3 linked regions of the Homo sapiens genome follow. The protein of the gene in region 1 purifies or fractionates together with the protein of each later gene. This does not show direct contact. Each region holds a gene or a part of one and is shown in the gene's direction. Other genes may lie near its edges.

What was found.
Region 2: the proteins of IQUB (region 1) and BTBD1 purify together in Homo sapiens (affinity purification with mass spectrometry; 2 studies listed by BioGRID and IntAct, with this or other methods). This does not show direct contact.
Region 3: the proteins of IQUB (region 1) and FAM83D purify together in Homo sapiens (co-immunoprecipitation; one large-scale study listed by IntAct). This does not show direct contact.

The regions. Positions count from the first base shown.
Region 1 is NC_000007.14:123,454,524-123,458,178, reverse strand, and holds part of IQUB (IQ motif and ubiquitin-like domain-containing protein), read left to right. Parts: intron 1-612; coding exon 613-798; intron 799-902; coding exon of another isoform or gene 903-986; exon of another isoform or gene 987-3,655. UniProt on the Homo sapiens protein: Adapter protein that anchors the radial spoke 1 (RS1) complex to the A microtubule of outer doublet microtubules in axonemes. The triple radial spokes (RS1, RS2 and RS3) are required to modulate beating of the sperm flagellum.
Region 2 is NC_000015.10:83,039,700-83,043,354, reverse strand, and holds part of BTBD1 (BTB/POZ domain-containing protein 1), read left to right. Parts: intron 1-1,429; coding exon 1,430-1,627; intron 1,628-3,655.
Region 3 is NC_000020.11:38,929,297-38,932,951, forward strand, and holds part of FAM83D (protein FAM83D), read left to right. Parts: intron 1-3,655.

The DNA.
Region 1 (3,655 bases):
ATTACCCCTCTTTTTGATTAAAACAACCAAGTCTTTTAATTAACACTAAGTGAATTACTTATCTTTATTAAATCTCAACTTCCTGTGTTTGCTTCAGCAGCCCATATACTGAAATTGGAACCATATAGAGAAGATTAGCATGGCCCTTGGACAAGGATGACATGCAAACTTGTGAAGTGTTCCATATTAAAAAAAAAAAATCTCAGCTTCCTCATTTGTAAAATGGCAGTAAAAGGTTTTAAAAGGTCCCTACAATGGCCCTGAAATTAAGATGGTACTTACTAATGAATTTTAAAGATCATTCAATACCATATGTTTATTATGGTAACATTATAGTATTATTAAGATTATATTCAGGTAAAATTAGCATACTGAAATGAATTTATACTGCTTACTCTGGTTTAGAGATGGGGACGCAACTGTGAGACTGATAATGTAGTTTAGGCAAAATGAACAGAAGTTTAGTGAAAAATAAGGGGCTATGTGTCATTGAAACCTAGTGAATAATAATTCACTTAAAAATACTCTATAATTTAATTATTTGCTCAAGTAATATAATAATCTTAAACAAATTTAAACTACATTGTTTTTAAAACTTGCTTTGACATGCAGCTACAAGACATTCAGTACCTGACAGAGAACATCTGGGCGTCCCAGTCAGTCCTCAGTGCTTGCGACAATCTCAGTGATCTGGTCATGGTCAGATGGAATAAATCCCTGGAGTGGTCCCCCTGGAACTGCATTCTTCTTACCAAAGATGAAGCAGCTGCTCATCTCAAGCTAACAAGTATTGAAGAGGTAAGAAAGTTGAATTTTATTTGGGAAGTTAATTTAATCATTGGAATTATTAGCGATAACTGGACTGCCTTCTAATATATTCCATGCTTAAATACTTCCATCAGATTAAGAAACAGAACTTATGGATTAACAACAAAAAAATTTATGGATGGCATATATGGCACAGATTAAATAAAAGGTATATATAAGAGATTTGAACATATTACAAGTCCTAAACATCATACCAGTCTCTCCTAATAGTAAGTTTAAGCACATTCCACGGTAAATTCCATGAAGGCAGTGATTTTGTTTGGCTTATTTACATCTATTTCTCTAATACCTACAATACTGCCTGTCACAGAATGGAGTTTATAAGTATTTGTTGAATGAATAAATGTGCATTACCACCAGATAGGTATTATGGAACCCAGAATCTGTCCTTCTTTGATTAATTATCATGAGTCTGCTTAAAAACACCCAACTCTCAAATTTTGTTCATAATTTTGTGCTCTAAATAGCAATCATACTGATGGGGTGTAGTTCTGATGCTCCATTTTTCATTTGCTTCCAACTTGCTGGGAGTGGAGCAAGCACTGTAAACATTAAATGCCATTTACTGTAATTTTAGTAACTTACATGATGCAATCTGTAAAACATTTTGATGGGTAAGTTGAGGGACTCCTGAAGAGTTCGTAGAGAGCTCCATTTACACTAGGTCCAGGATCCCGAGAGTTAATACTGATTCTCTGCATTCTTTAATTCCACACAAGGTGTCAGCTAAAGGAAAGTAAAGAAATGACAAAATGCAGTAGTCGTTTAAAATAGTGTGATTCCCTGTTTGTTTTTTTTCAGTGGAACAAGGGGTGATGAATATAAAGATAAGAAACTAGCTAAAGTTTTAGTTTTTAAATATTTTTTTAGTTTTAAGAAGCCAGGCTAAGAAAAATTTCACTCTAGGGATTGAAAGAAAAGGTAGCAATAAGTTGAAGCTGTATTAAATGTTATATTTAGTAAACTAAGCTGCCTCATAAATATTTAATCACAGGAAGCATAGTCAATACTAGCAATATCATTTCATCTAGGACCCATGATGAGATTGAAGTTCATTCCCAAAGCTGATATTCCAGTGCTTCTTCAATTAATCCACACAACTCCCTTTGTGCATTTAATCAAATTACTGCAGTATCAAATTAAATGTTCTATTCACATGCATTTCTAATTTAGAATGCCAGTCTTATCGAATTTCTGTAAAGGGCACCAAGATTTGCAAGCAGACAAACTGGAAAAACATTTGCCTTTTTTATGGTTTTGGGCTGATACAATCTTTTAACTATTAACTTTCAGCCCAGTTAAAGAGTAGTTTATATCTTGCAGAAAGATGGAGCATTTTCAGAATTTTCTTAATGTTCAGAGATATTTGCTTTCTTAAGAAGTTAAAAAAATACTTGCAAGTTAATATGAAACAGGTATAGGAAACGTGGAAAAACACTTTCGTTAATGTGAACTTTAAGTGGAGCAGATTGATCTCTCCTTGTGTGCACACTGGCCAAAGTAGGAACAATCATGGACTTAAAATCAGTAATCCTGACCCAGTTAACTCAAATCTCTGTCACTGACAACTTTACATTAAAACCTTCCCTCTTTGCTTCATAAATTTTTAGAAAGATTAGCTAAATAAGTGGAATCAGTAAAGAGGATAAAAGCAGCTCTGGCTCTGAATTCTAGCTTTACCATTCATGAGCTGGGAGAAATTGGACAAATTTGTGAATGTCTCAATGACCCAGCTTTCTCGTCTATAAAAAAGAGATAATGGTATCTCATCATAGGGAAGCTTTGAGTAGGCCATTATTTAAAGCTTTCTGCATAGTTTTTTTTGGCATGAATAAACTTAGGTAGTAACTATGAAAGCACTTTAAAAATTTTTGATGCATTTTATTTTTAATTTTAAAGCAATATATTATTGGCTTAGAATCTGAACAGAATAAAAAATGTAATGTAGAAAGTAAAGGTCTCAGAGGTTGAGGGAACAGGGAGAGATTTGTTAAGGATACAAAAATTATAGCTAGATGGGAGGAGTGAGTTCTAGTACTGTTCTGTGGCACTGTAGGTTGTCTATAGTTAATTACAATATATGGTTTCAAATAGCTAGACGCAGCATATCGAATGTTCCCAGCACAAAGAAATGATAAATGTTTGAGATGAATATGCTAATTACTCTGATCATGATATATGTATCATCCCATCACTATGTACCCCGTAAATATGTACAATTATTATCAATTTAAAAAATTTAAAAAACGACTGAATGAATAAATAAAGGGAGGCAAATAGACAAATCTCCCATGTAGAATTCCAAATAATTTATGTAGATACTCTCCACTCTTAAGGAGATGGAGAATAACTCTCTACCCTTTAAATGTGGGCTGTACATAATAACTCCTTTCCAAAGACTATATTATGGATGGAAGGGGAGGACCTTTACAGTAGAGAAACTTGACAAACACTACCTCAGCCAGGTAATCAAGATTAACAGCAGCAGTGCTGTCATGCTGATGGTGTGTACCCTTGATATGATGTGAGGAGAAGGGCACTTCACCCCTGTGGTCTTCCTCCCCAAAACCCATCCCTTCAGTCTAATAATAATGAAGAAAACACAGGACAAACCCAGATTGAGACACATTCAGGAAAATGTGGGTGTGGGGTATATGGGACCTTTCTGTAATATTCTTAGAACTATTTGTACACCCAAAGAATTTGTGAACATAGTTTAAAACCATCACATGGCTATTTCAAGAGAATGGACCTTATTTCAATGGGAAAAAAGGTCTCTTGATGTCCACCCATCCCTATCTCCATGTTGCAATGATAACTACTATTT
Region 2 (3,655 bases), on another chromosome or scaffold:
TCTTCCCTCCTGCTCACTCCACTCCACCACGTTGGCCTCCTTACCATTCCTCAGATATGCCAGGCACACTTTAATATGAGAGCCTTTGTACTTTTAGTCCTGGAATACTATTCCTCTAGGTATCTATTTGGCTTACTCCCCCACTTCCTTCATGTCTTGGCATAAGTGAAGCCTGCCTAAACCACCCGATTTTATTTTATTTTATTATTTTTTGGCACAGTCTCACTCTGTTGCCTGGGCTGGAGTACAATGGCATGATCATGGCTCACTGCAGCCTGCAACCTCCCAGGCTCGAGTGATCCTGCTGTCTCAGCCTCCTGAGTAGCTGAGACTACAAGTGCATGCCACCATGCCTGGCTAATTTTTAAAAACTTTTTTGTAGAGATGGGGTCTCACTATATTGCCCAGGCTGGCCTGAAACTCCTGGGCTCAAGCCATGCTCCTGTCTCAGCCTCTTAAATTGCTGGGACTACTGGCATGGGTCACCATGCCTGGCCCCTTCCTATTTTAAACTGCATTTCTGATTCTCCTTAACCTGACATATTTGCCCATGTATATCATCTAAGATACTCGAATTTACTTGTGTTTATTTAATCTGTTTCTCCTCATTAGAATGTAAGCTCCATGAGGGCAGGAATTTTTAACTTTTTGTTCAGTGATATATCAGTGCTGGCTGGGCGCGGTGGCTCACGCCTGTAATCCCAGCACTTTGGAAGGCCGAGGCAGGCAGATCACTTCAGGTCGGAAGTTTGAGACCAGGCTGGCCAACATGGTGAAACCCTGTCTCTACTAAAAATATAAAAATTAGCCAGGTGTGGTGGCCCGTGCCAGTAATCCAAGCTACCCAGGAGGCTGAGGCAGGAGAATTGCTTGAACCTAGGAGGCAGAGGTTGCATTGAGCCGAGATTGTGCCTCTGCACTCCAGCCTGAGCAACAGAATGAGACTCTATGACTCTATATCCAAAATATATACATACATATATATATATATATATATATATATATAAAATTGCCTAATAGTACCTGGCACGTAGTGCTTAATAATAAATATTTACTGAATGAACGAATGAATTATAATCTGTAGACTTTAAGAATTTATGTAATTGGAACCTTTTTCTGTGGCTTGTTAATCTTATTCTGGATAGTTGAGTTTACTTGATAAATGGCATAAATATATAAGGAGAGTACTGTATCTTAATATTGCATGTATGGTAAGTAATAAATTGATTGTTAAACTGATTTTTATGGAACACTTTGGAGTTTAAGTCCTTTAATTATTTAGTATTTTAAAGTATAAAGTCTGTAGTTTTAAGTGTCTAACCTATTTTTTGTTGAGATCTGAAAACTTAATATAAGTGTGTCTGTTGGTATTGCTTGGTTAGAGAGCTAAAATATTTCTAATTGGGTTTATTTTGTATTTTGCCTATAGATACACTCTGTGCAGTTTTAGAGAGAGACACACTCAGTATTCGAGAAAGTCGACTTTTTGGAGCTGTTGTACGCTGGGCAGAAGCAGAATGTCAGAGACAACAATTACCTGTGACTTTTGGGAATAAACAAAAAGTTCTAGGAAAAGCACTTTCCTTAATCCGGTTCCCACTGATGACAATTGAGGAATTTGCAGCAGGTAAGGGTATAAATTCACCAAAATCTATTTGAAACTGTTTTAATAGTCTGTCAGGGCTGGGCCTGGTGGCTCACACCTATAATCCCAGCACTTTCGAGAGGCCAAGGCAGGTGGATCACTTGAGGACAGGAGTTCGACACCAGCCTTGTCAACATGGTAAAACCCCGTCTCTACTAAAAGTACAAAAAATTAGGCATGGTGGTGGGCACCTGTAATCTCAGCTACTCAGGAGGCTGAGGCAGGAGAATCGCTTGAACCCAGGAGACGGAGGTTGCAGTGAGCCGAGATCATGCCGTTGCATTCCAGCCCGGGCGACAGAGCGAGATTCCACGAGACTCCATCTCAAAAAAAAAAAAAAATTCTATCAGTCTCCCTGCGCCAGAGAGGAAAAGAAGCTTTTATTCAGTACTAATCACATGACAAACATATATGCGAGTGTATGATTTTAAGCCCTTCAAAATTATATTATCCACATTGTATAGGTTAGAGAAGTAAAGTTGGGAGAGGTTGAGTGCCTTACCCCAGGTTATGACAGATCTTTTTGGCTTTTTTTTTTTTTCTTTTTTTTCTTTTTTTGAGACAGAGTCTTCCTCTGTTACCCAGGCTGGAGTGCCGTGGCACAAACGCATTTCACTGAAGCCTCCACCTCCCAGGCTCAATCAATCCTCCCACCTCAGCCTCCCAAATAGCAGGGACTATAGGTGCACACTACCATGCTCAGCTAATTTTTTAATTTTTTTTATAGAGACAGGATTTCACCATCCTGTCAGGGCTGGTCTTGAACTCCTGGGCTCAAGCCTCCCAAAGTGCTGGGATTACAGGTGTAAGCCACCACGCCCAGCCTCTGTTTGACTCTTAAGGTCGATGCTTCTGATTAAAATCAGACAGATCTGTTTTGAGTCTCCATGACCACTTCTGACCTGTTTTCATTACCCAGGTCATAATTGACTATTATCTGCCTTTAAATCACGGCCAGATTGATTCAAAAGAAAGAAAAGTCTCATGGTTTTTTTTTTTTTTTTTTTTTTGAGACAGGGTCTCCCTCTGTTGCTCAGGCTGGAGTGCGGTCGTGCGATCTCAGCTCACCGCAACGTCCATCTCCTGGGTTCAAGCGATTCTCACACCTCAGCCTCCTGAGTAGCTGGGATTACAGGCGTGCACCGCCACAAACTAATTTTTGTATTTTTAGTAGAGACAGAGTTTCACCATATTTGTCAAGCTGGTCTTGAACTCCTGACCTCAGGTGATCTGCCCACCTCGGGCTCCCAAAGTGCTGGGATTATAGGCATGAGCCACTGTGCCTAGCTCTCATGATTTTTTAAAAAATAATTTCAACTTTTATTTTAAATTCGGGGTAACGTGCAGATTTGTTTCATGTGTATATTGTGTGATGCTGAAGTTTGAGGTACAGTTGATTGCATCACTTAGGCAGTGAGCATAGTGTCCAGTAGTTAGTTTTTTAACTCTTTTCCCCCTTCTGTCCCTTCCTCTTTTCCCCTTTTTAACAGTCCTCAGTGCTTATTGTTTCCATCTTTATGTCCATGTGTATCCAATGTTTAGCTTCCACAAGTGAGAACATACGGTATTTGGTTTACTGTTTCTGCATTAACTCACTTAAGATAATGGCTTCTAGCTGCATCCATGTTGCTGCGAAAGGCATGATTTTGTTCTTTTTTATGGCTTTATAGTATTCTGTGGTGTGTGTGTGTCCGTGTGTGTGTGTGTGTGTGTGTGTGTGTGTGTCACATTCTCTACCCAGTCTACCACTGATGGGCACCCAGGTTGAGTCAGTGTCGTTGCTGTGATGAACATATGAGTGCATGTGTCTTTTGGTGGAACATTTTCTTTTCTTTTGGATATATAACCAGTAATGGGATTGCTGGGTTGACTGGTAGTTCTATGTTTTTTGGTTTTTTTGGGAGGTTGTTTGTGGTTTTTTTTTTTTTTTTTGAGACAGAGCCTCACTCTGTCACCCAGGCTGGAGTACAGTGGTACAATCTTAGCTCACTGCAACTTCCACCTCCTGGG
Region 3 (3,655 bases), on another chromosome or scaffold:
AAGGCATCATCCTTGCCAACACTTGAGAGTGGACAGTGTGCTGATGGGAAACAGTGAGGAGTTTGCTGCAGGTACTGCGGAAAGGGCTAAAGAAAGAAAGTCTCCGGAGTGGCAGTGACCTCAGAGCTGGGTGGGGCTTGCCAGACCTAGGGTATGGGGGCTGGCCCACAAGTGTTTAAGGACCTGGAATGTTTGGGGGCAGCCAAATTCCCCACAGCGGGTTAGTGGTAGGAGAGGAAGCTGGGGTAAGGGATGCTGAAATGAGTTGGGTTTGAGACAGTGCTGAATTTGAGGTCCCAAAGACAATCTCTTTTGTTTAAAAAAAAAAAAAAAAGCCAGGCCATGGTATCATGTGCCTGTAGTCCCAGCTACTCAGGAGGCTGAGGCAGGAGGATCATTTGAGCCCAGGAGTTTGAGGCTGTAGTACACTATGACTACGCTGTGAATGGCTACTGCACTCCAGCCTGGGCAACACGGGGAGACCCTGTCTCTTTAAAAAAAAAAAAAAAAAAAGTAATGCTTTCTGTTTGCCAGGCACTGTTCTAGGTGATCCCAAGGAAGGTGCGATTATCATCTTCATTTTACAGCTGATAGAACTGAGGCATAGAGAAGTTAAGTGGCCCCGAAGTCATGCAGCTAGAGAATGAAGGAGCCTGTACTCAAATTGAGGCACAGAATGTCTGAACCACTGTTAACCACCACACTCCCTGTGGAGGGTTCAGGAGCCTGTGCTCAGGTGGGGAGAGGTGACAGCAGATCTGGTGGCTAGCTAAGAGCTACTACTATTTATGGGCATGCATTGTGGACAAGGGAGTGGCTGTGTCACCTTGACCACATCCTTTGAAATCTAGTACCTGTGACAGCGAGGACCATGAAGGTGTAGGTCTCAGGCTGCTTTCAGGATGAAATGAGAAGCTGTTCTGCATCCGTGTTCTGATAGCAAAGGTACCTAATGGTGATATGATTGAGCACTTTGAATGGGTCAGTTTCTGTGCTAAACCCTTGACCTGAATTACCTCATTTAACCCTCCCAACACTGGGAGGAGGCTACAATTAAGAAAAGACCAGGCACAGAGAAGTTAAGTAACTTGCCTGAGATCACACAGTTAGCATGGGACAGAGCTGGGCTCAAGCCCAAGTCTGTCTAGTTCCAGCTCTGAAGCTCAAGTGTTTTTTTTTTGTTGTTTGTTATTATTTTTTTTAAGACAGAGTCTTGCTCTGTCACCCACGCTGGAGTGCAGTGGCATGATCTTAGCTCACTGCAACCTCCACCTCCTGGATTCAAGTGACTCTCCTGACTCAGCCTCCCGAGTAGCTGGGATTACAGGAGCACACCACCATGCCCAGCTAATTTTTTCTTTTTTTTTTTGGAGACAGAGTTGCTCTTTTGGCCCAGGCTGGAGTGCAGTGGCACAGTCTCAGCTCTCAGTAACCTCTGCCTCCCAGGTTCAAGCGATTCTCCTACCTCAGCCTCCCAAGTAGCTGGGATTACAGGCACCCTCCACTAATTTTTGTATTTTTAGTAGAGATGGGGTTTCGCCATGTTGGCCAGGCTGGTCTTGATCTCCTGACCTCGCGATCTGCCTGCCTCAGCCTCCCAAAATGCTGGGATTACAGGCGTGAGCCACTGCGCCCGGCCAATTTTTGTGTTTTTAGTAGAGATGGGTTTCGCCATGTTGCCCAGGCTGGTGTTGAACTCCTGGGCTCAAGTGATTCACCTGCCTTGGCCTCCCAAAGTGCTGGGATTACAGGCGTGAGCCGCTGTGCCCGGCCACTGAAGCCCACACTCCTAATCCCTGCTGCATACAGCCTCCCTGCCATGAGGAAGGATTGGAGCTTTGGTAGTTTTCAACAGGCTGAAGGTTTGTAACAGTTGAAGATTGGGACTTTTTAATTTCCATGTTGCGTATTCTATAAACAGGAAAATGACAATGACTAGACCTGTCCTTTTCAGGAAGAAAACGAGGTGGTCAGTTTTTAGAGTAGGAGGCATTAAGGCTGGCAGAGAACCTCCTCAACCCATCAAGTGGGGAAGGTGGTTCATGATGCCAGGAGAACATAGGTCTCTGAGTTTAGGTTTTGTAAACTAGAGTGTGTTTTCCTCTCCCTGGGAAAGATAGAGCCAGATAGATGTTTCTGGTACCTGGAGCAGAGGGATCTGTGAGAATCTTTTGGTGGGTGAATGAAGGAACTTTGAATGCCACATGAAGGGTCCCACTTAACCCCAGAGGTTGGGGCCAGGCTGCAGTAGAGCACGGTCGAACCTCAGTGTTCGCTCCATGCAGCTTTATCTGCCTTCACTGAGGTGGTCTGAGGACCACCCTGCATCTTCAGGAATGTCTCTGGAAGGAGCCAGGATACGAGGCTCCTTGACCAGAGTATAGGCACAGGAAGCCAGGGTTACTTGGTAAATGGTAGGGCCTAATCCTGGCTTTGCAGCCTGAAGCGCTGGTTCTGGGATAGGTTTTATCCAGCAGCTCTCTGACCACACAGAATCACTCAGTGTGTCTGATACATAAAAGATGCTCAGTAAATACTGTAGGGGCCTATTATGTGCACCTTTGCTCATTCAGCTACATGCTTTGAGGAGAAATAAAGGGCAGGGGGAAGGGAGCGGTAGATAGGAAGAAAAGTAGTTCAGGTGATTCTGTCTGCCTTTCCACTCAGCAAGTATTTGTCCCTGGGTGGCTGTGCCTGGGGTTTGTGAATCTGCCAGCCCCTTCCTTGACTCTTGTTTCTATATACCTTTCAAAGTGTGGGCATTCTGCCACACTGAATGAGGTACAGTGTTTAAAAACAAATGGTTTGGCCATGCGCGGTGGCTCATGCCTGTAATCCCAGTGTTTTGGGAGGTCAAGGCTGGAGGATTCCTTGAGGCCAGGAGTTTGAGACCAGCCTGGGCAACATAGCGAGATCCCATCTCTACAAAAAGTTAAAAAATTAGCCGGGTGTGGTGGCATGTGCCTGTAGTTCCAGCTACTCAGCAGGCTGAGGCAGGAGGATTACTTGAGCCCAGGAGTTGGAGGCTGTAGTAAGCTATGATCATGCCAGTGCACTCCAGCTTGGGTGACAGGGCAAGACCCTGTTTCTAAAAAATAAATAAAAACACAATTACGTATAGCATGGCTTGAATACAAGCTGGCTGCTTACCAGGTGCTCAGGCGAGCTTCACCAAAATTGGAGGAAATACTGTTTTGAACCTTTTGAGAACCCATATGTTTGTTTCCTAAGCAAGTTTTTGGATAATCTTGAATTATACAGGATATTTTCCCTACATACTTGCTGTAGATCCACCCCTCCACCACTGTATCTGTTGATGACGCATTCAGCTTTTTGCCTCTGTTGCTGTGTGAACTGGGATTTGGCTGGGCTGTGGCCGCCTGCCTGGAAGGGCTACATAGCCTCATTTTGGCAATGTGCTTATGAATTGGCTGTCCGGCTATTCCTGGTTTGTTGAATGAGAGTTCAGAGGCAAAGCTGGTACCACCACGAGGTTCCAATTCCTCAGAGTCACGTTTCTTACCAGTGCCTATTCTCTTTTGTTCCAAAGAGGCCACTTTTGCTATGACCTCACCCTCGGGCATCCTCTTGATAACCTGAGCGTTAGTAGTGGGGATCATTGCGTTCCCAGAGAGCCCTGCCAGGAGGAGTAGCA